7 separate regions of the Homo sapiens genome follow, and regions 1, 2, 3, 5, 6 and 7 are each reported to be linked to region 4. Evidence: microRNA targets listed by miRTarBase, many of them from high-throughput screens and not tested one by one. Region 4 holds a microRNA gene; each other region holds the end of a gene's coding sequence.
Evidence for each region. The annotated mature microRNA hsa-miR-449c-5p reads UAGGCAGUGUAUUGCUAGCGGCUGU and lies in region 4 at 1,757-1,781, shown strand. An mRNA with a match to its seed (bases 2 to 7 or 8) in the 3' UTR can be bound and repressed. Matches are read on the target gene's strand: a 7mer-m8 pairs with bases 2 to 8, a 7mer-A1 pairs with bases 2 to 7 and ends in A, and an 8mer does both.

Region 1: the mRNA of MALT1 is a reported target of hsa-miR-449c-5p. Seed matches in the 3' UTR shown: 7mer-m8 at 2,940-2,946 and 7mer-A1 at 2,638-2,644.
Region 2: the mRNA of ORC4 is a reported target of hsa-miR-449c-5p. The part of its 3' UTR that is shown has no 7-base or 8-base seed match.
Region 3: miRTarBase lists ZNF317 as a target of hsa-miR-449c-5p. Seed matches in the 3' UTR shown: 7mer-m8 at 2,540-2,546.
Region 5: the mRNA of ARIH2 is a reported target of hsa-miR-449c-5p. Seed matches in the 3' UTR shown: 7mer-A1 at 768-774.
Region 6: miRTarBase lists MLLT1 as a target of hsa-miR-449c-5p. Seed matches in the 3' UTR shown: 7mer-m8 at 3,524-3,530 and 7mer-m8 at 1,885-1,891.
Region 7: miRTarBase lists NCOA4 as a target of hsa-miR-449c-5p. Seed matches in the 3' UTR shown: 7mer-A1 at 3,487-3,493 and 7mer-m8 at 2,451-2,457.

What each region holds. Positions count from the first base shown.
Region 1 is chr18:58,747,201-58,751,266 of GRCh38, reverse strand. It overlaps MALT1 (MALT1 paracaspase), which reads right to left. Exons shown (of 17, transcript NM_006785.4): 17 at 1-3,862. The coding sequence ends at 3,425. The region is part of intron 1 of LOC105372146 (a long non-coding RNA gene); the gene reads left to right. Among named protein-coding and RNA genes, the nearest start is that of LINC01926, 65 kb to the left of the region's middle.
Region 2 is chr2:147,932,078-147,936,143 of GRCh38, reverse strand. ORC4 (origin recognition complex subunit 4) reads left to right here. Exons shown (of 14, transcript NM_181741.4): 14 at 446-4,066. The coding sequence ends at 634. Among named protein-coding and RNA genes, the nearest start is that of ORC4, 87 kb to the left of the region's middle.
Region 3 is chr19:9,160,818-9,164,883 of GRCh38, reverse strand. It overlaps ZNF317 (zinc finger protein 317), which reads right to left. Exons shown (of 7, transcript NM_020933.5): 7 at 1,471-4,066. The coding sequence ends at 3,451. Among named protein-coding and RNA genes, the nearest start is that of OR7D2, 16 kb to the left of the region's middle.
Region 4 is chr5:55,170,039-55,174,093 of GRCh38, reverse strand. It overlaps MIR449C (microRNA 449c), which reads left to right and starts at 1,741; the gene lies at 1,741-1,832. It overlaps CDC20B (cell division cycle 20B), which reads left to right and starts at 917. Exons shown (of 12, transcript NM_001170402.1): 1 at 917-1,156; 2 at 1,444-1,506. The coding sequence starts at 1,094. It overlaps MIR449A (microRNA 449a), which reads left to right and starts at 3,472; the gene lies at 3,472-3,562. It overlaps MIR449B (microRNA 449b), which reads left to right and starts at 3,352; the gene lies at 3,352-3,448. RefSeq lists silencers at 482-811, 899-1,193.
Region 5 is chr3:48,982,948-48,987,013 of GRCh38, forward strand. It overlaps ARIH2 (ariadne RBR E3 ubiquitin protein ligase 2), which reads left to right. Exons shown (of 16, transcript NM_006321.4): 15 at 1-32; 16 at 252-3,435. The coding sequence ends at 323. LOC124909376 (a long non-coding RNA gene) reads right to left here. Exons shown (of 2, transcript XR_007095903.1): 2 at 2,538-2,786. Among named protein-coding and RNA genes, the nearest start is that of P4HTM, 5.3 kb to the right of the region's middle.
Region 6 is chr19:6,209,418-6,213,477 of GRCh38, forward strand. It overlaps MLLT1 (MLLT1 super elongation complex subunit), which reads right to left. Exons shown (of 12, transcript NM_005934.4): 11 at 3,920-3,991; 12 at 964-3,753. The coding sequence ends at 3,625. Among named protein-coding and RNA genes, the nearest start is that of MLLT1, 69 kb to the right of the region's middle.
Region 7 is chr10:46,002,982-46,007,047 of GRCh38, forward strand. NCOA4 (nuclear receptor coactivator 4) reads right to left here. Exons shown (of 10, transcript NM_001145263.2): 10 at 2,107-3,616. The coding sequence ends at 3,611. TIMM23 (translocase of inner mitochondrial membrane 23) reads left to right here. Exons shown (of 7, transcript NM_006327.4): 7 at 222-761. The coding sequence ends at 337. Among named protein-coding and RNA genes, the nearest start is that of SNORA74C-1, 20 kb to the left of the region's middle.

The sequences.
Region 1 (4,066 bases), not on the chromosome of region 4:
CCATCTTGGTCAAGCTGGTCTTGAACTCCTGGGCTCAAGTGATCCGCCTTCATTGGCCTCCCAAAGTGCTGAGATTATAGGCGTGAGCCACCACACCCATCCTAAAACTAAAATTTTATGTTCAGTTCCTCACACTAGCTATTATTTCAACTGCTCAACAACCCCATGAGGCTAAAGGCTATCACACTGGGAGTGCGGATACCAAGCATCCCATCATCACAGCAAGTTCACTGGACAGTGCTGCTCGGTGGTAACCACAGCTGAGCACCTGCATGTTTGTTTGTTTTTTTATCAGATACATGATTTTTCAAAAATTTTTCTCCCATTCTGAGGGTTAACTTCACTTTCTTAATGGTGTCCTTTAAGGCGCTAAAGTTAATTTTGATGAAGTCCCATTTATCTACTGTTTGCCTTTGTTGCTTGTGCTTTTGGTATTATGTCTAAGAAACCATTCCTAAGCCCAACATCACAAAGATTTACTTCTGTTTTCTTCTAAGAGTTTAAACTCTTATATTGAGGTCTATGATCCATTTTGAGTTAGAATTTGTAATGTGGTAGGAAGGTAGGGATCCTTTTGCTGTGCACGTAGCTACCAGTTAGTTGTCCCAGCACCGTTTGTTGAAAAGACCACTCCTTCTCTATTGATGGTATTGGCATCCTTGTTGAAAACAAGTTGACCAGAAATGTATGGGTTTATTTCTGGATGTTCAGTTCCATTCCTCTGATCGATATGTCTATCCATATGCCTACACTGTCTTATTGTAGCTTGGTAGCACTTTTTGAAATTGGTACGTCTTCCAACTTTGTTCTTTTCCAAGGTTTTTTGGCTATTCTGGGTCCCCTGCGTTTCCCTACCAATTTTACCAGTTTGTCAATTTCTGCAAAAAATACAGCTAGGATTTTGATAGGAATTGTTGAATATGTAGACTAATTTGGGCAGCATTGCCATCTTACCAATATTCAGTCTTCCAATCCATGAACATGGATGTCTTTCCATTTATCTGGATCTTAATTTCTTTAAACGTGTTGGAGTTTTATTCTTGATGCTACTGTATATAGGATTTCTTTATTCTCATTTTCAGAATGTTTGCTGTTAGTAGAGAAATAAAACTGATCTTGTATCCTGCAACCTGTTGAACTCATTTATTACTTTTTATGGATTCTTTAGCATTTTCTATATACAACTATGTATCAACTGTGAATACATATAGTTTCACTTCTTTTGCAGTATAAACCTCTTTTCTTTATTAGCTTATTTGATTTTTAGATGTTGAACAAACCTTGAATTCCTAACCTAACTGCTGTGGCTAGAACTTCAAGTACAATGCTGAATAGAAGTAGTGCCGAGTGAACATCCTTGTCCTTCTTCCCAATCTTAAGGGGAAAACATTCAGCCTTCAGTCTATCACCATGAAGTATAATGTTAGGTGTGGGCTTTTCATAGATGTTATATTTATCATATCTAGGAAGATTCCTTTTATTCCTAAGTTTGTTGAGTGTTTTTATGAAAGAGTTTTGGATTTTATCAAATGCTGTAATAAGACAATCTGTGTGGGTTTTGTGCTTTATTAAATATGGTACAGTTGATCCTCATTATTCAAGGTTATGTATTTGTGAATTTACCAACTTGCTAAAATTTATAACCCTCAAATTGATATCCGTGGCACTTTTGCAGTCATTTGTGGATATGTGTAAATGGGTGAAAAATTTGAGTCACCCAGTACACATGTTCCCAGCTGAGGCTGAACAAGATGATGCTCTGCCTTCCTGCTTCAGTCTCATAGAGAAATGACTGGAGGGTGGAAATGGCAGGGGCAATTCTGTGTAGTACAAGAAGCTCTGGCTCCGGGGCCAGCTGGATGGGGTTTGAATTTCAGCTCTGACACCTGTTAGGGGGGTGCCTCAGGCATGTCACTTAACACTTCTGATACCTCACTTTCACTTCTGTAAAATAAGGTAGAATTTGCTAGGATGAATTAAGAATTCAAGCTCATAATGTGTGTGAGATAAACATATGTATACACACATATACACAAATACACTTTCTCCTAAAAGCAGTTGTTCCATATTTAATTCAGTGTTTATGGGAGAATATTCTGTAGAACATAATTACTGTGAATAATGAGAACTGACTGTATATTAGCTTATTTGATTTTTAGATGTTGAACCAACCTTGAATTCCTGGGATAAATTCCACTTGGTCATGATATAGAATCCTTTTTATAGGTTGCTGGATTCAGTTTGCTAATATTTTTGTTAATGATTTTTGTGTTTGTATTAATAAGGAATATTGGCTTATAGTTTTCTTGTGATGTCTAGTCTAGTATCAGGGTAATACTGACCTAGAGTAAGTTGGGAAGTGTTCTTTCCTCTCCTACTTTTAGAAACAGTGTGCAAAAAATTAGTGCTAATTTTAATGTTTGGCAGAATTCAACAATGCAGCCATCTAGGCCTGGGATTTTCTTTGTGAGACTTTTAAAATTACTAATTCAGTATTTTTCCTTGTTAATGCCAATTGCATTTTTAACCAACTTTTAGGTAGAGCCAAAGATAAGAGTATTATCTCATTAGGCCAGTGAAATTCAAGAAGAAAATACATATTATCAAGGAAGATGCTAAATATTTGGGAAATTCTGATAGGCAGCTATGAAAATTATCCATTATATCTTGATTCTTAACCTCTATCTAGCTTTAACAAACATTTTATCACTTCTCATGTGGTTTCATAATCTTATGAACAAGAAATTTCAGCCTGTTCTATAACAGATTTATATACAAACCTCTTAACTAAAACTTGCAGTGAAGTCCTTATAATCAAAAACTAAAGTTTGTACATTCCTTGAGATAATACACAGATATGTATCTGTATATATTTATATATATATAAATATATTTCACTCTATCTACAAACATAACACTTATCTCAGAACCTGTCAGGAAGGCAGTTGTGTAGTGGAAAAAATACTGGAATAGATTTCTGGAGGTCTCAGTTCTGGTGCCAGCTCTAACTTAGATGCCTTTCTGTGTTTCTTCCATGGATAAAATTAGGTTATGCCTGGTGATCGGCAAGGTTCTTTCTGGTGTTAAAAATACAATGACTTATTCTACAATAATGCCATTCCCATTGCTCTTACTTCAGAGTGGTCACAATGAAAATATTTTGTTATATACATATAAACATACACACCTCCATACTTCATTTGTATAGAACTATTCAACCAATTCACAAAATCTTAGAAAGAGGAAGTCTGTAATTAAATAATGTAATTTCAACATCTCAAAGTCCTGAAGTTTGCTATGAAACAGTTACTACTATTCTTTCTCTACATATACAAATTTGCCTTTTCACAATGTCTCACTTTATGTAAGTGCAGTACTATTTCACAGGCATCTAAAATTATGCTAACTTTCAAAAACAAGGAGGTCATTTTTCAGAAATTCTGAGCCTGTCAGAGAAACTAAATGGTATTTCATCAGTTGTCTCTACTGGCACATTACTTCTACTAAAATGACATGAAGCATGGTGAGCGAAACTTGAAATAAATGCATCTGGAGTCCGGCTGCAATGACAGCTATCTGCTGGTGTAACATTACTTGGATTACCAGGATGTGAATGGTAAACACCATGGAATGGGTCTTGCAATGAGTGATAATGCCCTGCTCCTCCTGAGGTGGCTGCAGAACTCTGGTAAGGACCATTAGACATAAGACAAGTTTGAAAGCAAGTCTTCCTTCCCAAACCTCGATGCATGTCTAATTTAGCAATGAGAGGTTTCCCAACATTCACTTCCTGCTTGTCCTCTACAGTATCTTCCAATCCTGAGTACTGATATGATAAACATACTGTGAAGACTAGATGTTCCTGAAAAGGAAAAAAATCTGGTTTATTATTGGCATCAACAGTGAATATATATCAATCTGAAAATATTCACACATACACACCCCCACCCCCAAAAATCCACTCACTCTCCTTTCCCAGGTTCCAAATCCTCAAGGCATCCTTTATATCTCCCTGAAACTGAGAAACGCCAGCTATCATTATCTTCCTTTTCCTTCATGCAATACT
Region 2 (4,066 bases), not on the chromosome of region 4:
GTTACCTTTTTACATAGCAAAGCAAAAATAGAGACAGACAAAATATAAATGCAAATCTGAGTAGCCTAGGGAATTGATCAGAAAGTCTTATCTGATTCTTAGGTTTTTACAGAGAACTGGAAACTATTTATTAAAGTACTAGGAGGAGCTATGATAGAGAATGAGGCTAGGAAGAAAACCATATTGTATATATTGAATTAAAGTTTGCCGTGTTTACATTCAACAATATATGGACAAGTAAGTGTGCACTGACACTGTTTTACCTGATAATATGAGTTTTCATGGGGTTGTGAGAGTTTTTTTAATCCTATTGATTGTTGTTACATTTTGCTTCCCAGTACTCTGTTCTGCAGCTGACCAAAATGCTAACTGTTCTCTGGGAGAGAACAGGAGAGTTGTCACTCTCCTCTCCTATTCAACCTAAACTATTTCTTTCATCTTTCAGGCTTTTGAACACTTGCAGCAATTAGAATTAATAAAGCCCATGGAAAGAACTTCAGGAAATTCACAGAGAGAGTACCAGCTGATGAAACTGCTTTTGGATAATACTCAAATTATGAATGCTCTGCAGAAATATCCCAACTGTCCTACAGATGTGAGGCAGTGGGCAACATCCTCACTAAGCTGGTTATGAATATAACCAGTGACTTCAACTTTGGCATTTCATTCATACTTCTGTAGAGAACGGAAAACTATTGTCCATTAACATGATATGCTAAACATTCTATAAACATTCTTGTATTTATGTGAGACTTGCCCATCTACTGTCTTGGCTGTGTCTTGCCTTTTAATCATGAACAGTTACATGATTTATAATTTCACTGATTGAGATTACTTTGTAAGTAGCTGTTCAGAAGAATAAAATATGACTGTTTTAGGGACTAGACCATGTGCTTTTTTAACACTTATATATATAATGGTCTATTTGAAGAGCTCACTTCAACCTAACAGCTAGATGTCTTTACAAACCTTAAACCAAAGGAGTAAAAAAAACAATGGTAAGCACTGAAGTATAATAAGTAACCTTTGGTACAGCAGGTTTGCTGCAGTGTTTTTTTCTGTCCACATGCAAATTTTGGATTCTATCCCAGACCCAGGTTTTCTAGTTCAGAAGACTAACCAGCTTAGTCAGAAGATGGTTCCATGGAAGAAAAAGGCCAAGGAGTTTGAAGATTTTTCTTCTAGACATCTCAAAATGTGGTACTCATACCATCCACATCAGAATCCCTTGTAGGATTTTCTAAAATTACAGATTGTTGAGCCTACCATAGGTCAAAAGGACTGGAATTTTCCTTCTTAACAAGTATAGTCATGGCACCACGTAACATTTTGGTCAATGACATTGTATAAAGGGTGGTCTCATAAGATTATACCATATTTTTACTGTACCTTTTCTATGTCTAAATATACAAATGTTTTACCATTGTGTTACAGTTGCCTACAGTATGATTACAGTAACATTCTGTACAGTGCTATAGCTGAAGAGTAATAGGCTAGGCTATCTGTATAGCCTAAGTGTGTAACAGGCTATATACATATCATCAGGGTCTGTGTAAGTATACTCTGTGATGTTCATACAGTGATGAAATCACCCAAAGACACATTTCTCAGAACGTAGCCCCATCATGAAGTGACGTGACTACCAGAGATTTCTGGAAAAGCACTCCCAAAAGTAATGAGATGTGTATGGCAATGTTAACTGAACCTGTTTGTATTAAAAAGTAAATCCCTATGAGGAATGTGGAAATGTCCGTCAAAGCATTGTCTTTTAAGTAAGTTCCAAGATCCATGAATTAACAGAGGCATATATTTAAAATGAAATTTAATGAGCACTTAGTGACTTCATTTGTTCAAGAATATTTGATTTCCTATTGTGTGCATGGGAGGTTTACAAAAGACAGACTGTCCCTATGCTTGTGCAGCTTACAATCTATTTAACTATTAGAGGCCCTGTGAGATGTAGGCAGTTATTTACAGATGAGAAAACTAACACAGCAGTGGCAATGCTGGGAATGGCCAACAGGCTTGGAATTCAACTCAGTTTAGCACCAAAGCCAGTGCTATTAAGACCTGAAGTTCAACAGTGGATTCCTTACCAAATAGTTTTTAAAGTATGCTCTAAGGAACAATGTTTTAATGAAATCTTGGATACAAAGTGGAATAAAAGGTTTCTGAGCATAAAGTAGCTCTTCAGTAGTTACAACCTATTCTTTTGCATACATAGCCTTTCCTTCCCTGCAAAAAGTTAAGCCTGCTAAGTATTCAGATCCCTGTCATTTACTTCTCAGCAGTCTCATTCAAGCTAAGGCTTGCATACTCAATCTGTGCCGTAGTCTACACATTTTTAGGGGATATTTCACCAAAATACTTGACATGGTAACATCACTATTATATACTAGAAGCAAGAATTTTACACTTATGCTCTAAGTGATCCTTTTAAAAATTTTCTGAACTATTTGAGGAAAGTATTATTTGTCTTAAAGGGTAACAGCCTCATGAAATGACTTGAGGATTCCAATTTCTTATTAGCTTAAGATGTCACTTAAAAGCTGACAGCCCTCATCTGTCTCATTGGCTACATAAGAGCTGCAGAAGATCCATCAATAACCAAGTATAAAGAAAGATTTTAAGACTAAGTACCAATTGAGGTAAACATGAAACCGTTATAAAGCAAATTAAAAAAAAATACATTAGGAAAAGTTACACAAATGAAGTGTACGCCTATTATATTCCCAAGGCATTTTTGTGGGGAGGAACAGTGCTGCTTGTTGGCCTTTCCATATTCCCTCATACAAAAATGCTAAAATCTATTCGCAAGAGTTTTGAGCTAACTTCGTCTCTTAAATTGCTTTAATTGTCATCAATAAAAACAAATATGAAAAACCCTAGTTTAAAAAGCGGTTCAAGAATAATGTAAACTTATACATATAGCTTATTTTCTTCATTTACTAGAGGAGGAAAAATAGAACCAAAAAATGCATGAACTCCTGCTTTTCAATCTGATTACCTCAAACTGAAAAGCAGGTGAAAGGAGGAATATTTCAGTGTGTTTTTACATCTGAATCCAAGGGATCCAAGTGGCCCAGCAGAAACGGAATTCTTGTTAAAATGACTGATTCTCGTGCATGTGAAAGGCTCTGGGGAATGAATACCTGTTTGGTCCAAACTTACTGTATCATAATGCTGTATATGTTGAAAACGTAATACCTGTTAATGTCCTAATGAATCACGTTTTGCAGAAAACACCGTAAGAAACACTTCAGTCTTTCTGTAGTTTCCATGCATATTTCACCATGGTTCGCACTCTGATCCTCATCTGGTTTAGAAAGCAATTCAGTTTCTTTCAAACCACCATAACCTAAGTGCTGCCCCATCCTTCACCTTTACCCTAGAAAATCTGAGAATCCATTGGTGTGTACTGTGTGACACAATGCCAACAAGCCTCTGGTTTCTAATACTGGCAGGACCAACACACATACTTTAGTGGGAATATAATCTGTTTAGACGATAATAGAGGGAAATGCCATAATTAACAAATCTCCCTTCACTCACCACTATCCTCATTCTTGCAGTTGTCAAGGTGTAAGCCTCACTGTAAGTTACAAAGCTACCACTCCCCTCTTTAAGAACACATAGCTTAGGATTGCCTTGGCGATGTGGGCTCTTTTTTGGTTCCATATGAACTTAAGTAGTTTTTTCCAATTCTGTGAAGAAAGTCATTGGTAGCTTGATGGGGATGGCATTGAATCTGTAAATTACCTTGGGCAGTATGGCCATTTTCACAATATTGATTCTTCCTACCCAAGAGCATGGAATGTTCTTCCATTTGTTTGTATCCTCTTTTATTTCCTTGAGCAGTAGCTTGTAGTTCTCCTTGAAGAGGTCCTTCACATCCCTTGTAAGTTGGATTCCTAGGTATTTTATTCTCTTTGAAGCAATTGTGAATGGGAGTTCACTCATGATTTGGCTCTCTGTTTGTCTGTTGTTGGTGTATAAGAATGCTTGTGATTTTTGTACATTGATTTTGTATCCTGAGACTTTGCTGAAGTTGCTTATCAGCTTAAGG
Region 3 (4,066 bases), not on the chromosome of region 4:
CAGTGAGTGGTAAGCAACCTCCCCAAATCCCCTTTCAAATGCTGTGAAGTAACTCCACACCTATGAATCTTCTACACAAAACTATACCTTCAACACTGCCTTTAAGACATAGAGAATGCCAAAATTGCAACATAACTATGAGTAAAATGAGAAAAAGCATTAAATCTTAGCACCACGGTCCCACACATGCCCACCCCAAGGCTCTGTTAGGTAAACTGCAAGAAAGAGGGATAGCTGGTGGGGGGGCCTGAGACAGAGCTGGAGCAAGACCCTCAGAATCATCTACCCTTAATTTGAAAATGCAAAAAAACAAAACAGAATCAAAACCCTGGCCAATCATAGGAGAACTGCAGGAAACAGACTTAAAACTATGTGTCATTTATAGGCCGGAGCAACTGTGTCTCACACTGCTAATAAAGACATACCTGAGACTGCCTAATTCATAAAGAGGTTTAATGGACTCATAGTTCCACATGGCTGGGGAGGCCTCACAATCATGGTGGAAGGTGAATGAGGAGTGCTGTCTGAATAGCCCACCCCTTAATTTGCATGTAATTAAAACTGGGTATAAATACTGCTAGCCAACAGCCTATATGCTGCTACCCTGGGTATACTGCCTATGAGTCAGCCCTGCTCCACAAGGGGCAGCCACTCTGCTGTGCCCTGCTGCTTCAATAAACCCAATTTCTTTTACTGCTGGCTGCCTCTTGAATTCTTTCCTGAGCAAAGCCAAGAACCCTCCTGGGCTAACCCCCAGTTTGGGGGCTCATCTGCCCTACATCATCAGCAGAAAAATAGAGACTCAAAGAATCAGAAGGAAAGATCAGAAATCAAAGCCACCATAAAGAAACGGAAGAATGCCTTTGATAGGCTAATCAGTCATCTGAACATGGCCGGGCGCGGTGGCTCACGCCTGTAATCCCAGCACTTTGGGAGGCCAAGGTGGGCGGATCATGAGGTCAGGCCATCAAGACCATCCTGTCTCACACGGTGAAACCCCATCTCTACTAAAAATACAAAAAAATATTAGCCGGGTGTGGTGGCGGGCACCTGTAGTCCCAGCTACTCAGGAGGCTGAGGCAGGAGAATGGCATGAACTTGGGAGGCAGAGCTTGCAGTGAGCCGAGATCGCGCCATTGCACTCCAGCCTGGGTGACAGAGCAAGACTCTGTCTCAAAAAACAAACAAACAAAAAAAAAAAAACAAAAAAAAACCACACAACTGACCAATGACCAGGTGTATGGGCTCCAGGCAGCATCCAGCTGGGTGTAGAAACCCCCTCCCACCAATAAACAAATGAAATAGAAAAACAAGCTGGGTGTGGTGGCACATGCCTGTATTCTCAGCTACTTGGGAGACTGAGGCAGGAAGATTGTTTGAGCCCAGGAGTTCGAATCTAGCCTAGGCAACATAGGGAGACCCCCATCTTAAAATAAATAAATTTAAAAGAAAAACAATGAAATATCCATAGCAGCTTAAACCAATAATCAGTTTTATTTTTTCTCATGTGATAGAAGTCTGGAAGTCCAGGGCTGCTGCAGACACTCAAAGAGGCCACAGGGGAGGCCAGGGTCGCTGTGAGCTTTCTGCAGTCACTTCCTTAGACTGTGGTTTTCATATGCACGGTCGTTAAGGTGGATCTTCCAATACTAGGTACTGGATCTCTTTGCAAGGTGAAAAGTAAAGCAAAGAACAAAACATACAGGGAGGAATTCATGTTTAAGAACGATCCCCATTCAAGAGCTTTCTCAGAAGCCCATGTGGTGACATCTGCTGATCTGTCAGTGGCCAGGGCTGTGAGACATGGATGGTACCAGCTGCAAGAAAACCTGTAAGAGATTTTTTAAAATTTAGATTAGCACACCTTACTAATCTGACAGAACCTGGATTCTCTTGATATTGGAAGAAGATGAGAGTGGATACCGGGGAAGTCACTAGAAGTATCTGTCACTCTTGGCTGGACAGCAGGCTGCAAACATATTACCACTTGATGGAGGCATCATGCTCTGGTCGCAATCCGTGTGCATCAGGTACCAGTAACAAAGTGGTACTGAGAAATATCCTCATGTCACATAGATCTCAATATGCCATTGGTCAAGGAGGTTGTCCAGAAGGAAATTAGGACGTTATCAAGGATGAAGCTATAGTAAAAATACTATAAACAAACCTTTCTTGATGAGGCTTAAGGGTTATTTAGAGGAGTATAACCTTAAAAATAAAGATGAAAAATTTATGAACGGGGCTCTGTTTTCATGATGAGAGAGTACGTGCAGTCCCGTATTCACCGGAAAATCTCGTTGGGGCTTCTCTCGGGGGGTCTGTTTCCGTGATGAAAGAGTAAGTGCAATCCCGTATTCACCGGAAAATCTCGCTGGGGCTTCTCTCCGTGAGAATATTCACATGCTCAAGTGAGGGGACCATGGCTGGAATCATTTCCACATAGGAATTATCAGCACTAATTGTATTTTAAAAGTTTTGTAAAAGAAATTTCTCCTAGCGTAAGTGCTCACAAGATTCATAAAAATGGAGGAATTGCTGCAGGCAGTAATTGAGGAATGACTGCATGATTATTTTCAACCTCAGCAACAGTGACGTTTGGGGGCACTAACTCTTCGTTGTGGGGGGCTCCTGTGTGCTGGAGCCGACTTAGCAGCATCTCTGATGTCTTCTTATTACAAGTCAGGAGTATCTTCCCCCCATTCTAACTACCAAAAATGTCTCTAGACATTGCCAAATGACGCCTAGACAGCCAAATCGTCGCCCGACTGAGAACCCGTGCTGTAGACCAAGGGTCGGCCAAGTTTTTCTGGAAAGGGGCAGATGACAGGAAGTATTTCAGACTTCATTGGCCACAAATTTTCTCCATCAAACATTCTTCTTCCTTAAAGATGGAACCACTATTGTTAGCTGGCAAGCCATACAAAGACAAGCAGCTGGCCGTGGTTTGCGGCCCATTCATGACCTTCCACGTTCCTTACTTCACTGATTTCTCTCTTTAGTGTGATTTCCGTCATGAGGAATCAAGTGAGACTAGGAAGGGTTTCCCCAGCCACTGTGTTTACAGAGATGCTCCCTAGTGTGCTCATTATTACTCATGGGCCCAGAAGGCTAGAAGTGGTCTGAAGTCATTTTGACATTAAATGCCACGGCTTGGATTTTGACATTAAATGCCAAGCTGCCATTAAGTCCTCCTGTGTTTGTTAAGAGCTGAATGTACCCTGAAGGCTTCTCCATGCTACAGACGTACATTTTCACCCCCGGCGTGAGTTCTCACAAACCTCCTATGGGATGAGAACGCCTCGTCTTCCCAGTTTTTACAGGAACTGGACTTCTCCCAAGTTCCGTGGATTCTTTTGCACCCAGTAAGGTGCGAGCTCACAGAGGCTTCCTCTTACACCCACGAGGTCTGTTTCCGGTCTGAATCATCCTGTGTCTCTAAAGCAGGCGCGCTCACTGGAGCCTTTTCCACACGGATGACACAAAGAGCTTCTCTCCCCGGTGAGTTTTCACGTGGCTCCTGAGGGATGAGTGGTCGCTGAAGGCTTTCCCGCAGACAAGGCATTCGTAGGGCTTCTCCCCGGTGTGGATCCGCCTGTGCACATTCAGGTTGGAGCCTATGCTGAAGGCCTTCCCACAGTGATCGCATTCGTACGGTTTCTCCCCCGTGTGGCTTCGCATGTGCGTCTTCAGCGTTGACTGGTTCCTGAAGGCCTTGCCACACTGCCTACACTCAACTCGTTTCTTTACAAGGTGAACGCTCATGTGCCTCCGCCGGGATAAATAGTCACCGAAGACTTTCCCGCAGGCGGCGCATTCGTAGCGTCTCTCTTGCGTGTGTATCTTCCTGTGTGCGGTGAGGTTTGAACTCGCGCTGAAAGCTTTCCCGCAGAGATCGCACCCGTATGGTTTCTCTCCAGTGTGAGAGTTCATGTGAGTCTTAAGGATGGACTGGTTTCGGAAGGTCTTCCCGCACTGCCGACATTCCACGGGTTTCTTGACGATGTGAATCCTCATGTGTTTCCTCCGGGACACGAGATCGCCAAAGGATTTCCCGCATTCTTTACAT
Region 4 (4,055 bases):
CTTCCCAGATGCAGTGTCCCCTCCTGCCATATGGCACAACTCGGCTCTCTTGGCAGCTCAGATGGGCAGCTAAGGCTGCACAGCCCATCTGGTTCCCTGTCATTTCCCGCCAGACCTCTTCCTCAACCCTCAATATCTTCCTCTCCCCCTTTATCACGGAGTCCCCAGTGTGCTCAGCTTTCTGGCCCCCTCTTCACGCCTTATGAGGTCCTGCCTGTCACTGGTTCTTTCACTACCTCTTCACCTCTCTCACCTACCCCCTGCTAAGGAACAGGGCTCAGAAGCCCGAGTGAGAGGACCTGACTACTCCCAATGTATAGAGCAGGGAATAATTTATTGCATAAATATGTCAACGCTCTCCCTTTTGATCGGCATAGAAATCTTGCCACGTTTTCTTGCCTTCTGAAAACGAAGAGCTGACGAACACGCCTCACATCTATAGCTGACACAGCGATTACCAACGGACAGAGGCCGGAGAGCTGTGCACGCTCGGATCCTGCAAAGGCAGGGTGTGGTTGGAGAAAGAGAAGTGGGTGCAGAGGAACAGGGATCAGGGCCGTTATAAGGAAACATTCTTGTTTCTGAAAATGGAAAGATCGTGAACTCCCAGAACCCGCTTCTTCGCCCGCCAACCCCTCCGCCTCCTGCCGCGGTGGCAGCCCCCGGCGCCAGGCCCAGCCGCAGGCCCGCCACGGCTCGCGGCAAAGCTTGGCGCCCGGGTGCGCGCCTCGGCCGGAGGCGGTGGCGGGGCGGGGCCCAGAGAGGGCCGGCAGGGGCGGGGCCGCGGCGCGCGCCGGGGAATCCCACCCGGGCTCTGACGACACCGCGGCGCCGGCCAATAAGAAGCCGGCGAGGGGGATTCCCGCGCCGACTGCCGCCCCGCCGGCTTTTTAAATGGTACCCTGGGGAACACCTTGCAGCGGCGGTGGGAGGAGTGGGGGACCTGGAGGGAGGTGGTGAAATAGAATGGTCCTGGGGGACGGGACTCCAGGGGTTTGACGATTAGGCGTCAAGACTGACTTAGACCTGGGAAGAAAACCAGAGGCAGTCGAGCAGAGAGGCCAAACGCCAGGCAGGGCGAAGTCAGCCGGAGATGGAGTGGAAACTGGAGCGCACCGCGCCTCGGAGGGTCCGCACGGAAGAGGAGATGCTGTGGGTGAGTAACACCCTTTTCTGCATTCTCCCTAACTCTCTAATGCGGGGCCGAAGGCCCCGTTCATAATATCTGTTTAGGACCAAGAGGTGGTACGAAACTCTAAGCCCTGGTCGTAAATTTGAGTGATGTAATTTAGTTATATTCTGAAGGTGCCTAGTTGCCAAAAAAAAAAAAAAAAAAAAAAAAAAGTGTAATCTGACAAGCACAAGATCTAGAAAAATTCCACACCTGAAATTATGATTTTCCTAAATAGTTTCTCCCTCAATATGTTATCTGTGTTTTCAAAGGAAAGTATCATGCGTGTGCTCTCCAAAGACTTGAAGCAGAAGAGAAGTCAAGATTCCGCCAACGTGAGTCCAGGGCTTGTTCTTGTTCTCTGTTTTAATTCTGATCTTGAACAAACGAATTCTTGGTAAATAATGTATTTGTAGGAAGTTTGAGCTGGTCTGAAAATATGAGAATTTTAGTATCTTATTACATACTAAAAAAAATTTCTTTATGAAACTGAAGATCCCAGACAAATAATGCAATCGTTTGCATCTGAATCGTACTTTCTAGTTTCTGCCTCCACAGCAAAGGATAAAGCTGGGATGTGTCAGGTAGGCAGTGTATTGCTAGCGGCTGTTAATGATTTTAACAGTTGCTAGTTGCACTCCTCTCTGTTGCATTCAGAAGCACGCCCCCCAAAGAAATGGAAATGGTGCCATCTTGTGGACAATGTGGAGAAGTGGCATAAACCATGGTTCTTAACGTGAGCAATTTAAAGTTGATCCAATGTAGTACCTGTTCTCCTTGAAAGACCAAACCCAAAGGTCTTTAGTGTCTCCTGTAATCAGTGTAAAAGGAAACAAATTTAAATGGTTTTATAAACGTGTTTCATAAAGAGCCTTCATCTGCTTTAAATCTCTGTCACCATTTACCATGCTTCTCTCTAGGCTCAATAGTTCATCTTCCTTTGACCTGTACGCAGAGATTCTAGTTCCAAATCCACCACCATTTTAATAGATTTTTCTAGATCTTATATAAATTTTGCAACTAGGCACTGTGGCTCATGCCTGTAATCCCGGCACTTTGGGATGCTGAGGCAGGAGGATCACTTGAGGCCAAGACTTCAAGACCAGCCTGGACAACACAGGGAGACCTTGTCTTTATAAAAAAACTGCAAAAATTAGCTGGGCATGATGACATGTGCCTGTAGTCCCAGCTACTTGGGAGCCTGAGGCAGGAGGATTGCTTGAGCCCAGGCGTTCAAGGCTGCAGTGAGCTATGATTGCACAACTGCACTCCAGCCTGGAGGACAGAGCCAGACCCTGCCTCTTAAAAAAAAAAATTCAGTATTCAAGTGGTAACATCCTATATTGAATACATAATTGCATTTTCAGAACTCGATTACTAATGTCATTTCTAGTAGGAGAAAACTAATTGCATTTAAGCCCTTACATTTCTTAAATACTTTAATGTTGATTTTTTCCCCCAAACACTGCTGCAGTTTTGTGTCGTGCACAGCTTATGTATTATCACGACTCCTAGATATTTTACTGTCTAATACAGACAAGTAGTCTTTGGATCAGTAAACAGAAGTGATTTGAAAAGCTATAGTTAAGTAACTTTTTATTTATTTTTTTGAGACAGAGTCTCACTTTGTTGCCCAGGTTGGAGTGCAGTGGTGCAATCTCGGCTCACTGCAAACTCCAGCTCCCGGGTTCAAGTGATTCTCATGTCTCAGCCTCCTGAGTAGCTGGGATTACAGGCAGCACCACCACGCTGGGCTAATTTTTGTATTTTTAATAGAGACGGGGTTTCACCATGTTGGCCAGGCTGGTCTTGAACTTGTGACCTTAGGGGATCAGCCAACCTTGGCCTCCCAAAGTGCTGGCATTACAGGCATAAGCCACTGCGCCCAGCCTACAGTTAAGTAACTTTTAAAATTCATTTGTACTGTAGAACATATTTTTATCCAAGCATTTAATTTGGAAAACCTAAATGTAAGTATTCTGAAAGTTTTAAAGTTTTTGTTTAACTTTTATGTTTTTGACTAGATTCAAGCAAATATTGATTTTATTTCTTATAGTCTTGAAGTAATACATTTTGTGTATAAGTTTTCTTTAATGTGACTATTAAGATTAGAGTTCTGCCACTATGTTTCATGTTACAAATTTAGCCTCAGTGACTGCCTGGGCCACGAGAATCGGCAGTGACCTGAATCAGGTAGGCAGTGTATTGTTAGCTGGCTGCTTGGGTCAAGTCAGCAGCCACAACTACCCTGCCACTTGCTTCTGGATAAATTCTTCTTGTCAATGAAGTGCTCTGGATACCTGTGTGTGATGAGCTGGCAGTGTATTGTTAGCTGGTTGAATATGTGAATGGCATCGGCTAACATGCAACTGCTGTCTTATTGCATATACAATGAACATCAGAGTGTAACTGAATCTGTAATTAGTGTGTGTTTATGTGTACTTTCTGCTATGAAGCAAGCCACTATTTACCATAATATATTATTGCCATTAGCTTATAATACAGTAATACTTACAATGCACAGTTTTATAATGGTAAGGAAAGTATTACAATTACTTAAATTTTTTCCTTTTAAGAAAAATTTACTTATGCCTGCTTTTCCATAACTAAAAATTTTTAAGAAATATTTTTGGAGTCTTTGGAGTCTTTCGGAGTAGACAGTGTTTAAGTATTTATGAAATTACATGTTTTTAACTATAAGGTTTAGAATGTAATAACAATGTGGAATGGACCTACAATGTGTCCCCAGATTTTCAGTGAAGTCTTTAGGATTCTTTCTGCATTATTAGTTTCTTTCTTTTTTTTTTTTGAGACGGAGTCTCGCTTTGTCGCCCAGGCTGGAGTACAGTGGCGCGATCTCGGCTCACTGCAAGCTCCGCCTCCC
Region 5 (4,066 bases), not on the chromosome of region 4:
AAGTGGAGCGTGCAGACAGCTATGACAGAGGGGTAAGTGCCTACTGTCCTCTTGGATTCTATATTGCAGGTAGAGGACTGGCATGGTAATAGGTGACAGCGTTGTTGGCTTGTGCACTGGTAGCTGCTGCTAAGAATGGGAAGGGCAGTGTTTTTGACTCCTTGGAGGTCCTGGAGGGTGTTTGTGGCTTTGGCTACTCCTTGCTCCCAGGCCTGGGCCATGCAAGCACACACCTTGTTTCTCTGATGCAGGACTTGGAGAACCAGATGCATATAGCGGAGCAGCGGAGGAGAACCCTGCTGAAAGATTTCCATGACACCTAAGTTGGGATGTGGATGTGCCGGGGTGAGGAAGATGTGGCTGCAAGGTCTCCCGGCTGCCATACTGCATGCTGCAGGCTCTGCCTTTCATGACCCCAGGCAACAGCCAGGGCCCCACTCCTGAGAGACACTGGCAACACCTCTTAGTTGATTTCTGTTTTCTTCTCTTTTCACTTTTTGTTTCTACCAGGGTAGAGGCCATGTTGAACTGGCCTCTTTTCAGGACTTTTATTTCCCCCTGGATGGTTGTTGGGAGGGAGGGAAAGTGTTTTCTGAATGGCTATTAATAGTATTAGATCATTACAACTTATGTAACTTTCAAAGGTTGTACAATTATACAAAAAAAAAAAAAAGGCAAACTATAGGATAACACAGAGCCCTTTTTGAAAATAAATTGGCATTGGAGTGTTTTACCCTCTAGCTGTTTTACTTAGAATGTAACATATGCTGCCTACCCACCTCAAAATGTCTGTACTGCAAGAGGGCCCTGGGCCTCTGCTTTCCATATTCACGTTTGGCCAGAGTTGTAGTCCCAAAGAAGAGCATGGGTGGCAGATGGTAGGGAATTGAACTGGCCTGTGCAATGGGCATGGAGCACAAGGGGTCACAGCATGCCTCCTGCCTTACCGTGGCAGTACGGAGACAGTCCAGAACATGGTCTTCTTGCCACGGGGTGTTGTTGTCTCTGGTGGTGCTGCATGTCTGTGGCTCACCTTTATTCTTGAAACTGAGGTTTACCTGGATCTGGCTACTGAGGCTAGAGCCCACAGCAGAATGGGGTTGGGCCTGTGGCCCCCCAAACTAGGGGGTGTGGGTTCATCACAGTGTTGCCTTTTGTCTCCTAAAGATAGGGATCTACTTTTGAAGGGAATTGTTCCTCCCAAATAAATTTGCTTTACCTTGGTCCTTTCTTTTGTGCCAGTATTCAAGTGGTATAGCTCTGAGCAGGGTCACATTTGGCCAAACCTGACACTGTCTTGCTGCATTCTCCTTTGGCAAACATCAGGGTCAGAATTCAGGATAGCCCTTCCTAGGGCACTGGACTTTCTGGCATGGGGGCTGTGTTTGCACAAGTTATTTTCATGTTACCTGGAGAGTGTCCAGAGGCTGCTCTGAGGCTGAGGTGTGTTCCCCCTTGCCTGGTTCCAGCTGTCAGAGGGATACCATCCTAGGGTCTGGGAATCCAAGGCCACGAGACTCCTTGGTTTGTGGTCCGAGATCCTGTACTAAGGAGGGTCTGGCCAGAGGAACAGACCAGCTTTTGCACAATGAAGCGCAAGGGAACAAGTGGTTTGCCTGGTGTCCTACCTGTCCTGAACCTGGTCCTGTGGGCCATTGAAAAGTTAGATCTGTGATCTCTGGGGTTTTTGTGGCTTTGTTCAATGCTTCCACTCTAGGGCAGGCAGAGCAGTCTATACTCTCCCAAGCCTGCTTGACCTCCAAGTAGAGCTGATACAGAGATCTGTGAATATTGTGATAGAAATTCTTTGGTATTCATACATTTCAGCTGCAAGTCAGCAATTTCCCAGGTACCATGTAAGCTATAAAACAGTCATTCTTAAAGACAGAGGATAGCTGTGACTCATGGGATCATGAGGTCCATGGCTGGTTGCAGGTTCCCTTTTTCCTTCCTCAGGTTTTGTCTCTTCCTGTGTTGTCCCCAGCAAGGGAGAGACTGTGGGGTGGATTGGGAGAACAGATTAGGAGTATAGCAAATGAACCCAGAATGGAACAGTGGGGAGCTAACTGTGAATGAGGAGAGTACCTGCTGCAGGACCTGGAGGTCAGGTGTGAATGCTGTATTGGCACAGGGAATAAATATCCTGGCGTCTGGAGCCTTCACCTCTCCGTCAAGTCCTTCCTGTGATACTGCCATGGCACAGGATCTGAGTTGCAGCTCTGCACCCTAAATCACACCCTGGGCATTGTCTGGGCTGCAGGGCTGCCAGGTTCTGTACTTGTGTCCAGCTGTGGCCCTGGATGCTGGAGCTGGAGGGTTTTCTGTGCTCAGACTGTAGCCTGTAGCTCTTGGCCTGTGTAGAGCCCCCTCCTGTGCCCTCAGTGGCTGTCGTTTGTTAACATCATCAGGAAGATGGGAAAGGTCAGGCAGAATTTTTCTGCCCTACAAAGGGTGGAAGAGAAAGGACACAGTATTTTCATGAATTTACCATATATCTTTGTTTTTCTTCAACGAAAAAGTTAATTGAGGCAATGTCATCTGCTCAAAGTTGAGTGGTTTATTCACAATAAACTGTAAGTTTCTGATTATAAAAATGTGTCTAGAGTCTTTCTTCATGGGGTCTAGGTAGTCTTCTGAGCCCACAGGGGTCTGGCCAGTGAACACCAGAGGAGTGCCTTCCTATCAGTCAGCCCCTTCTTCCAGAGGGCTGTGGAGGCCCCAGTGGCCAAACTCGGCTCTGTTTTCCCTTTCTGGCTGTTGGGGGAGAGGGCACCTGTAAGTGATCCCTGTGGAATGAAGTAGAAAATCCTGCCAGTTTTCCGCTCTCCTCTCCCTCAGTACAGGCTGAATCATTCCCCACCACAGATAGATCCCAGGGTTGTGGTAGAGTACTGATATAAATGTCCCAACCCCCCCATTCTGAGACCTCCGGACCCCTCCAAAGCAGACATGGGAATGTAGGGCTGTGGAATATGGCAGGGTGAACTCCAGCTTCACGGGAGCCCTAAGGGTTATGAAGAGACAACTTGGGGCAGAAACAAGTGTGGAGTCTAATCTCAAGGGTGAAGGACAGGAAATGAGGTTTGGATTGATTAAGGGGGTCCACATTTGTGGTGTCAGAAGTGGCAGTAGTGTCAGTGATAAGTAGCTCAGGGGTAGAGTGGAGGCTCCATAGCTGTGGGCAACATGCACAGGGCACCTGTGGCTAGAAGAGGCCTCATACATTGCCAGTCTGAACTCCGCAGCTCTTCCTCTGGACCTCAGGTGTGCCAAGCCCCACGCTTGGCACCTGGGCATACAGTGGTATGCAAGTGATTCACGTGCTCTAGCTTCCAGGAGCTTCCAATCCATGGGGAACATAGAAGGAATTGATCACTAGTGAATGTTTGTTTTTTGTTTTGAGACAGTCTCGCTCTATCGCCCAGACTGGAGTACAGTGGCATGATCTCTGCTCACTGCGGCCTCCACTCCTGGGCTCAATTATTCTGCTTCAGCTCCCCGAGTAGCTGGGACCAGTGTGTGCCACCATGCTCCCCTAATTTTTGTATTTTTTTTTGTAGAGACAGGGTCTTGCCATGTTGCCCAGACTGGTCTCAAACTCCTGAGTTCAAGCTATCTTCCTGCCTTGGCCTCCCAAAGTGCTGGGATTACAGGCATGAGCCACTACACCCAGCCCACTAGTGAATGTTTTTACTGGAGCAGCAAGGCCAGGAGCAAAGGACCACCCATGCTCAGGGCCACTCCTGCAGATCAGTGGGGCCAGGGTACTATGGCCTTGGCACCATACCTTTGGCAATCCTAAAAAGAGAGAAGATAGCACCTTCTAGCGAAGTCAGGAGGGATTTTCCATGTAGCCCACAGGGGTTTACACAATAAGCATCTGAGCATCTCCTGTATAACAGGCTCTGCTTGGGGCGGGATAGAAAGTGATAGAAGTGGGACCTCACAAAGACAATCACACTAATGTTAACTGAGAACATACCCATTTAGTCCTCACAGCAGCCCCTTGAGGTAGGTGCTGTCATCATCCACATTACACAGCCATTTAAAATGAGTTAGGGGCCTG
Region 6 (4,060 bases), not on the chromosome of region 4:
GCTGACAAAAGTGATCTCAATCAGTGGCTGCCACGGTGATCCTGTAATGTGGGCTGCTCAGGAATGGAACTCCTGCTCCTCTGGGTGGAGCTGGAGCTGGAGCACAGAGGGGACAGATCTGCTCAAATGGGGCCAGTGACAGCTTTGTCTCCTGGAGGTTCACTGAGCTCTGCCACACTGAGGCCAGAGAAAAACCCACCAGAGGGAAACTGGGAGATGGCACGCTGGCTCCTGGGAAAAAATGTCTTTGCCTACATTTTTATTTCCGTCCATCCAACCATCCATCCATCCATCCATCCATCCATCCATCCATCCATCCATCCACGCATCCATCCTTCCTTCCTTCCATCCACCCATTAACCCATCCATTGATCCACCCATCCATTCATTCTTCCATCCACTCACCCATCTATCCATCCTTCCTACCATCCATCCTTTCCATCCATCCACCCATCTGCCCTTCCTTCCCTCCTTCCGTCCTTCCCTCCCTCCTTTCCTCCTTTCCTTCCTTCCTTCCATCCACCCATCGATCCATCCATCCTTCCATCCTTTCTTCCACCCACCCACCCATCTATTCATCCATGGTCCACCCAACCAATCATCCACTCATCCATCAAACCACCCATCCACTCACCCACCCATCTGTTCATCCATCATCCATGCATCCACCTTATGAAACCAAGTTTTCTTCTCAACCCAAACCTTGCTGTCTGCTTCCAAGTAGAGAGCACAGCATCAGAAGCAGGATGTGAGCCGAATTCTCTGCCCTCTTGAATTGCTGGTAGCATCGTCTCCAGCCTTGCTCACACTCCCCACCCCCACCAGGCTTGGTCCCAACCCTCCTTCTCTGTTTTGGTCACTGATCTGGGGGCACTGGGACACGTAGTCGGGGCAGGGGGCCCCAGGCTACCTCGCAAGCCTGCCCACTGACTGGACAGGAGGAACCAGGCAGATGCATGCGTCTGCTTTCCCATCTGACTTTATTTCACTTTTTTTTTCTATAAAACTCCTCCATAATTTCACAATTTAACAAAAGTTTAAAATCCAGGAAAGAAACAATCCTGTAACTCGTTACAAACACGATTCTCCTTATTCCTTTTATCCAGGAGTTGGTCTCGGGCCGATGAGTGTCCTAGTTCCTAGTGAGACACGTTCTTTGTAAAAACCCTTATGGGCAAGAAAGGTATTCGATACCATTTGCTTTCCGGCGTCGGTTTACATTTTTGTTCAGGAGAGAGCAAAACACAGAGATTTGCACTGGGGGCAGGCGGCTTAACAGGAAACACGTGGCAATCACAAAGTGCCAGGCCCCTTTCCTATGGAAGTGTCCCCAGAGCCCTCGTGGGCCCAGCCGCCGGGCAGCTGGGGTGGGGTGGGAGAGCAGCTGGGGATGCTGCCTTGGGAGCCCATGCTGCCCAGCACGTCCATCAGGTGGTCACGGAGCCAGCCCTGGGCCCAGAGCAGCTCTGGAGGACAACGTGAGGCCTTCCGGCCAGAGGAGGTAACTGAGAACTGGGTTGGTGCTTCCGGAGGCCTTGGAAACGGCAGGAAGGGCCAGACGCCACCACCGAGAGCAGGCGGGGGAGCCCGACCCTCCTCTGGCTGAGTGGAAGGCTGCTCGAGTCGCTGTGTGGATTTTGGGGGACTCCTGCGAAGGAGAAAGGCCAGCACCCTGGGCTGAGGTTCCTGTCCGTGACCCCGGCGGCCTCTTGTGCGTAGAGCTCCCAGCAGCACGGGCCCCCGGTCAGCCCCCCTCAGGCCAGTTCCTTCAGTCCAATGTCTTAGTTTCCAGAGAAGAAAGGAAGCGCCCCATGGTGGAGTATTGTTGGCCGCCCTGGGAAGGGGAGAGGGGGCACAGGGGCCTGCCCTCTTCCTGATACCTGAAGGCAGTGGGGCCGGGAGAGAAACAGAGCAGGTGGCGAGGAGTCCCGGAGGCTTCCTCCGAAGGTTCTCGGGCCTTTCCCCGAGAGTTCTGGGGAGTTTCCCCAGGACAGCTGGCATTGGGGGCAGCCTTGGAGGCATGGGTCCCCACCAAGGAGTGTTCAGGATCTGCTGACAGAATCAGAGCAGGGACAAGATGAGGGACCTCAGGGAGGGACAGATGGAGCCCCCCAAGTCTGAACTCATAGGCTGGGGAGGAGGAGACATCTAGGTGGGTTCGAGGGGGTGCGAGCCCACCTCCAGGCCCTCAGCCCTCTTTTCCTCATAACTTGGTCAGGGCACAAGGACTTGAAAGGACTTGAAAGTCAGGGGGTTGAGAGGACTGGAGGCGCCTCGAGTCAATGTCTGGGAAACAGAGGCTAACCAGGCAGGCCTCCAGCCCCTGGGACCCCCAGCCACGATGGGCTGGCTCCGCGGGAGCGTCCTGGCCCTGGAAGAGTGGGCCGGGAAGGAGGACCGGCTTGGCCCCTGGAGAATCTCAGGCATACCAGGAGTGGGGCTGCGGGCGCGGCACCAGCATGAATTGCGGCGGTGGAGGCCGGGGCGGGCCAGGCCGCGACCAGAGAGAAAGGCAGCCTGGGAGGGCCAGCCCGGCCAACCCACCGGGCCTGCTGATGGCCGAGCCCACGCTCGAGGGGCTGACCAGAGTTCAATGCGCCTCAGAAAACTCCATAAACTATCCCGTCTTATTTGGCAAAAGCTCATATTTTTTTCAAAGTTTGAAGACTTGAATGAAAGAGAGGAAGAGGAGCCTATGGGAGGAGGCCGAGCCCCAGGGCGGCTGATGCGAGTCTGTCCGCGGAGACTGTTGGCGCTAGTCTGAGTAGAGCCCGAGAGCAGACTGGTGGCTCCCGGGCGCCCTGAGGACTCGCTGCCCTTTGTAGTGTTGGCTGACCCCCCCGGGAGCCCCGGTAGGAGGCGGCGGCATCCTTGGAACGGCAAAGGGAGAATTCCTCCATGCGCCTGGAGAGGGCCAGCTGCCGTGCCTGGCTCGGCCTCCAGCCCCACACCACCGCAGAGACATCTTAACCTACAAGCCCCACCGTACGCACCCCCCACCCACCCCACGTGCACTGCTGCCACAGAAACGCACATGGACACTGCTCTTGACCAGACAGTGCACACACATATATAATAGAGAGAACTATACAGCACAGACCCCAGCGCAGCGCGAGCCGGGGAGGAGCCGGCGCTAGGTCTACACGGAGGACGACGCAGACACACAGGCAGGGCCTTCTGAGGTCCAGGGTGGGCGGAGGGTGTGTTCTGAACCATTCGGGAGGCTGGAGATGCCCCCCAGCCGTCGATCCGCTGCTCAGAAAGGCTGGGGCAGCGACGCCGCACAGCCCGCCGAGCAGTGGGGGCTGGTCCCAAGGCTGGGCGAGGGGCCCCCGGCCCTGTCTCTGCCCAGAGCTGCCTTCAACACCAGCCGCTCTCTGAGGGGAGCCCAGAGAGCCCGGGGGGCGGCTCCCGTGTGGCCCAGCCCGGCCCCAGGGCTCCTGGCGATGGAGCGGGGAGAGTGGGCAGGGAGCCGCCGAGGAAAGTGCAGCGGGCTGTGCGGGCGAGGACAGGGCTGTCGCTAAGGCAGTGCTGCGGGCAGGCGAGACGGGAGAGGAGGGCAGGCGAGGCCTGGCTGCAGCCTCCCAGGACCCCGGCGGTGGGGGCCCGGCACGCGGCCCAGGGTCATGTGGCCACGGCCTCCAGGCAGCTCTGCAGTTTGCGCACGGTGGTCTCGTCCAGGGAGAAGAGGTCGAAGTCGAAGGTGGTGTTGGTGACATTGAAGTGGCCAGTCTCCTCGATCAGATTCACAATCTGTAAGGTGGTGGCAGGTGGCTTCAGGGGCAGGGGGCCAAGGGTGGGGTTGCCCTGTTCCCTAACAGAGGTAGGGGCTCCTGGGGCAGCACCAGGGGCCCCCGCAGCCCACACTCCTCACAGGCACCCCGACCTCTGCCGGGCAGGACCCTCAGGGGGGCGATACCTGCTGCAGCACGTTGCGCTCCCGCAGCGCCATCAGCCTCCGGTGTAGCTCCACCAGCTCATCCGTGTAGGCCTGGGGAGGGGGGGCAGGTCTCAGCAGCGTGTGGGGGCCCTGGACCCTTCCTGCTCCCATGCCCAGCCC
Region 7 (4,066 bases), not on the chromosome of region 4:
CCAGCCAATTTTTTTGAATTTTTAATAGGGTTTCACTATGTTGGCCAGGCTGGTTGAACTCCTATCCTCAAGCGATCCACCCACCTCGGCCTCCCGAAGTGCTGGGATTACCTGAGCCACCGTGCCCAGCCCATTTCACAGTACTTTTTATTTAACCCTATCGTGCTAGGGCACTATGCAATATACAGCTATTTCATTTTCCTTTTGTCTCTGTTTCCCAGGTGGTCTTCGAGGGATAGCACGAGGTGGTCTGACAGGACTAACACTTACCAGCCTCTATGCACTATATAATAACTGGGAGCACATGAAAGGCTCCTTGCTCCAACAGTCACTCTGAAGATTTTGCCAACTCATGAATGGAGGACACTTCAGTAGTCATCTAGATCCTTTTATAAGACAGTTTGGAGTTATTCTCTCTCTTCTACCTACAATTAGTTTGAAAAATTGGAGATTTTGATTTGCTGTGATGAAAATCCTGGATGGCTGACCAAGACTGGCACTTGTTCCAGCCATTAGTGAGTTGAAGCCAAAGCCCTTTGGTGACTCACTGAGTACCATGGTTCTGTTCTCCTCTGGAGATCTTGCACGTATCTGTTTTCCTCCCCCATGAACTAGAAAACCACTTACTCCCAGAATTCAGGTCGTGCTTGTTAGTACTATATCACCAAGTCCATTCATTTAATGATCCAAAACTGTAATGTTGCACTGTATTCCAAATAAAGGGTAAAAACAGAACCAAAGTTATAACTCCAACACACAAACATAGTGGTTGTCTCAATTTAAAAGTATCTACCTGGGTATAAAGTGAAAGGTACCCTTGGCATTTTTTGTCCCAGTGGGCAAAACAACATCTTCGTGTTTGTGTTAAAATGAGCTACTTGGTGGCCGGGTGTGGTGGCTCACGCCTGTAATCCCTGTACTTTGGGAGGCCAAGGCAGGTGGATCACCTGAGGTCAGGAGTTTGAAAATCAGCCTGGCCAATATGGTGAAACCTTGTCTCTACTAAAAATACAAAAATCAGCTGGGTGTGGTGGGTGTGCACCTGTAACCCCAGCTACTCAGGAGGTTGAGGCTGGAGAATCGCTTGAACCCAGGAGGCGGAGGTTGCAGTGAGCCCAGATCATGCCACTGCACTCCAGCCCAGGTGACAGAGTGAGACTCCATTTCAAAAAAAGAAATGAGCTACTGGTGGCATTCACCAATAGAGCTGGTACTAAACCACCTCAAGGTATTTCAGGTCAGCCGTTAGACTAGTATGCTAGAACAATCTTTCCAACAATCCTGCTTCATTCCATACATATTAACTCACACCTTACTAGGAATAATTAAGAGCTAGGTTTTTTTTTTTTTTTTTTTTGAGACAGGGTCTCTGTTCCCCAGGCTGGAGTGCGGTGGTACAATCTCAGCGCACTGCTGAGATTACTTGAACACCTCCCGGGTTCAAGTAATTCTGCCTCAGTCTCCCAAGTAGCTGGGATTACAGGCACTTGCCACCATGCCCAGCTAATTTTTGTATTTTTAGTAGAGGCGGGGTTTACTATGTTGGTCAGGGTGGTCTCGAACTCCTGACCTCAGGTGATCCACCTGCCTTAGCCTCCCAGAGTGCTGGGATTACAGGCGTGAGCGACCGTGCCTGGCCAAGAGCTAGATGTTTTTCAAGGAAGCCTTGGGAAAACTAAAGGACATGAGGCCAAATTGTTTAATTTCTGAGTTTGTTTTCTCATCCACCATATGAAGTTAATCATGTATAATTGCACTACAGGTTATACACATAAATATTACTGTATTAAATACCTGGTGGCTATATGATTGGAGAAAGTAAACTAGGGCCTCTTCGGATGCATCTAGTAAGAGGAATCCAGTAGAAAGGCACTGAATCTTGGCTGAAGTCCCATAGGTTTTTTTTTAATAGATGTGAATAGTTTTTATAAAAGACTGAAAATGGAGGTTAATATACCTATTGTTTGCTAATTTTTCATAAAATACACTGATGTTATTTTTATGTTCAAGCTGTTTCTCAGCTGGATTACTAACCAAAAGTTACCACGTTATGTGGTACCACACCACACTTTGTGACAAATAGTTTTAAAAATAACACGCAACAACTATGGCTGTTATGCTTTTAATGGAAGCAGATACAAAATTCATCAATGCAAAAGAATGTTTTACATACTCATTAACATAGTGATTAATGTAAATTATATTTTGACTTGTAAAATACAGTGTGTTTGGCCTCAAGAAACTACAGAGCTGCAACTCAAGATAACTGGAAAGGCTCCTTACATTGTTTTTGCCCACCACCTTTATATAATACTCCTAAATGATATCTGGGGAGGGAATTAAAAAATAATACAAAGCTCTTTTCAGCTGTGGTTCAAAGAACTCTAGTGAAGCTGTATGGCAATGACATTTTGGGACCATGAAGTTTCCCCAGAAGTATTTCCGGTAAGAGGCAGTTAAGAAGCTTAATAGTTTCAAAGTCTGGAAAGCAGCAAAGATATCTTAGAGAAAACATTATAAACCCCACTTCTCTCCTACACAGACATTTTAAAGCATGGACGTAACTTTAAGGAGACTGAGAAAACATCAGTAGTTTTCACAAAGCTTCAATGAACACCCCAAGGCACAAGTGTTGAAAACGGCCTGTTCACTAAAACGTCACTTTTGGAGGTACAGGTATGCTGTGCTTGCAGTGAGAGGATGACTTTATCCCTACTTAAAAGCACCAGGTGTCAAGCTCAGCTTCCATTTACACAGGATGCACCAATTATCCCTATGATAGTGACTGTTTCAAGTACTATACTACATTTCCAACATGTCTTTTGCCTATTTGCTTAGTCGGTACTGGGGTTCTTTTAAGCCCCGTAGGTCTGTAGAATATTTTAAAAGGCTAGAATTACCTCAAAAATAGTCTTGAAATAATACTGAGTCCTTCTAAAGAGCTCACTGGATATTTTAATAACATTTACAGAAAGACAAAATTTGCAGTAGCTGAGTTTAAGTGAAGAATAATGTAGAACTAACGTGGGCTAAAATGTTTCATAATTAATGTCAAAAATTGCCAAGATTATTAATATATATTTTGGTAATCACTATTGACCAGGTTAATTTTTTTGTGCAAAATACACTATGTATTAATAGAACAGGAAAATAATTATTTCAGACCACTAACAAAAGAAAACCCACAGCAAGAGAAGCATCTGTAGGGCAATTAAACGTTAGGGAAGTTTACTAGCTTTAGAATACATCAATATACTTCGATAAACAAGAGTGTTTTAATGTACTTTTAGTAACGACCCAATCTAAGGAGCCTTGGAGGCTTGTGAAAAAGACGTCCACAAAGATGCTGCATTTCTAGTGTGGGGTGAATTAAAATACTTCTGTAAGAAGGAGGGAACTGAATCACCTCAGCATGAATAAACAGCATTTTTCTTTTAAACAGTAACTCATAATCTGATGACTCACTTTGCTTTACTAGTTCAAAATTAGGCAGGAGAAGAACTAAGCTAATTGGTCAGACCCAGAAACACAAAGATTTGGCAAGCTGCAGTCACTCAGCTCATGATGTGTGATAATCAGCAGAAAGGCTGCTCAACTCTTGTCCATTCCTTCACATCTGTAAAGAGACACCCACAGATGATAAGTTACTTCAATGAAGAATAAAAGCAAATTTTCCCTGCCTTAAAGCTCCGACTCATTTCCCAATACAGGTATACCCTTGTTACATTGTATTTTTTACAAATTAAGCATTTGTGTCATGAACTATGCCCATTAAAGATGGTAAACTTTTCATCAATAAATGTCCTGAATGCCCACCAAACAGCCTTTCCCTATTTCTCTTCTCTCTCCTCAGGCCTCCCTGTTCCCTGAGACAAAACAAGATTGAAATTAGGCCAATTATTAACCCTACAATTGCATCTAAGTGTTCAACTAAAAGGAATAGTCCCCATCTCTCACTCTTCTTTAAATCAAAAGCCAGAAATGATTAAACTTAGCGAGAAAGTCATGTTGAAGGCCACGAGAGGCTGAAAGCTGGGCAGGCCTTTTGGACCAGCCAAGCTGTGAG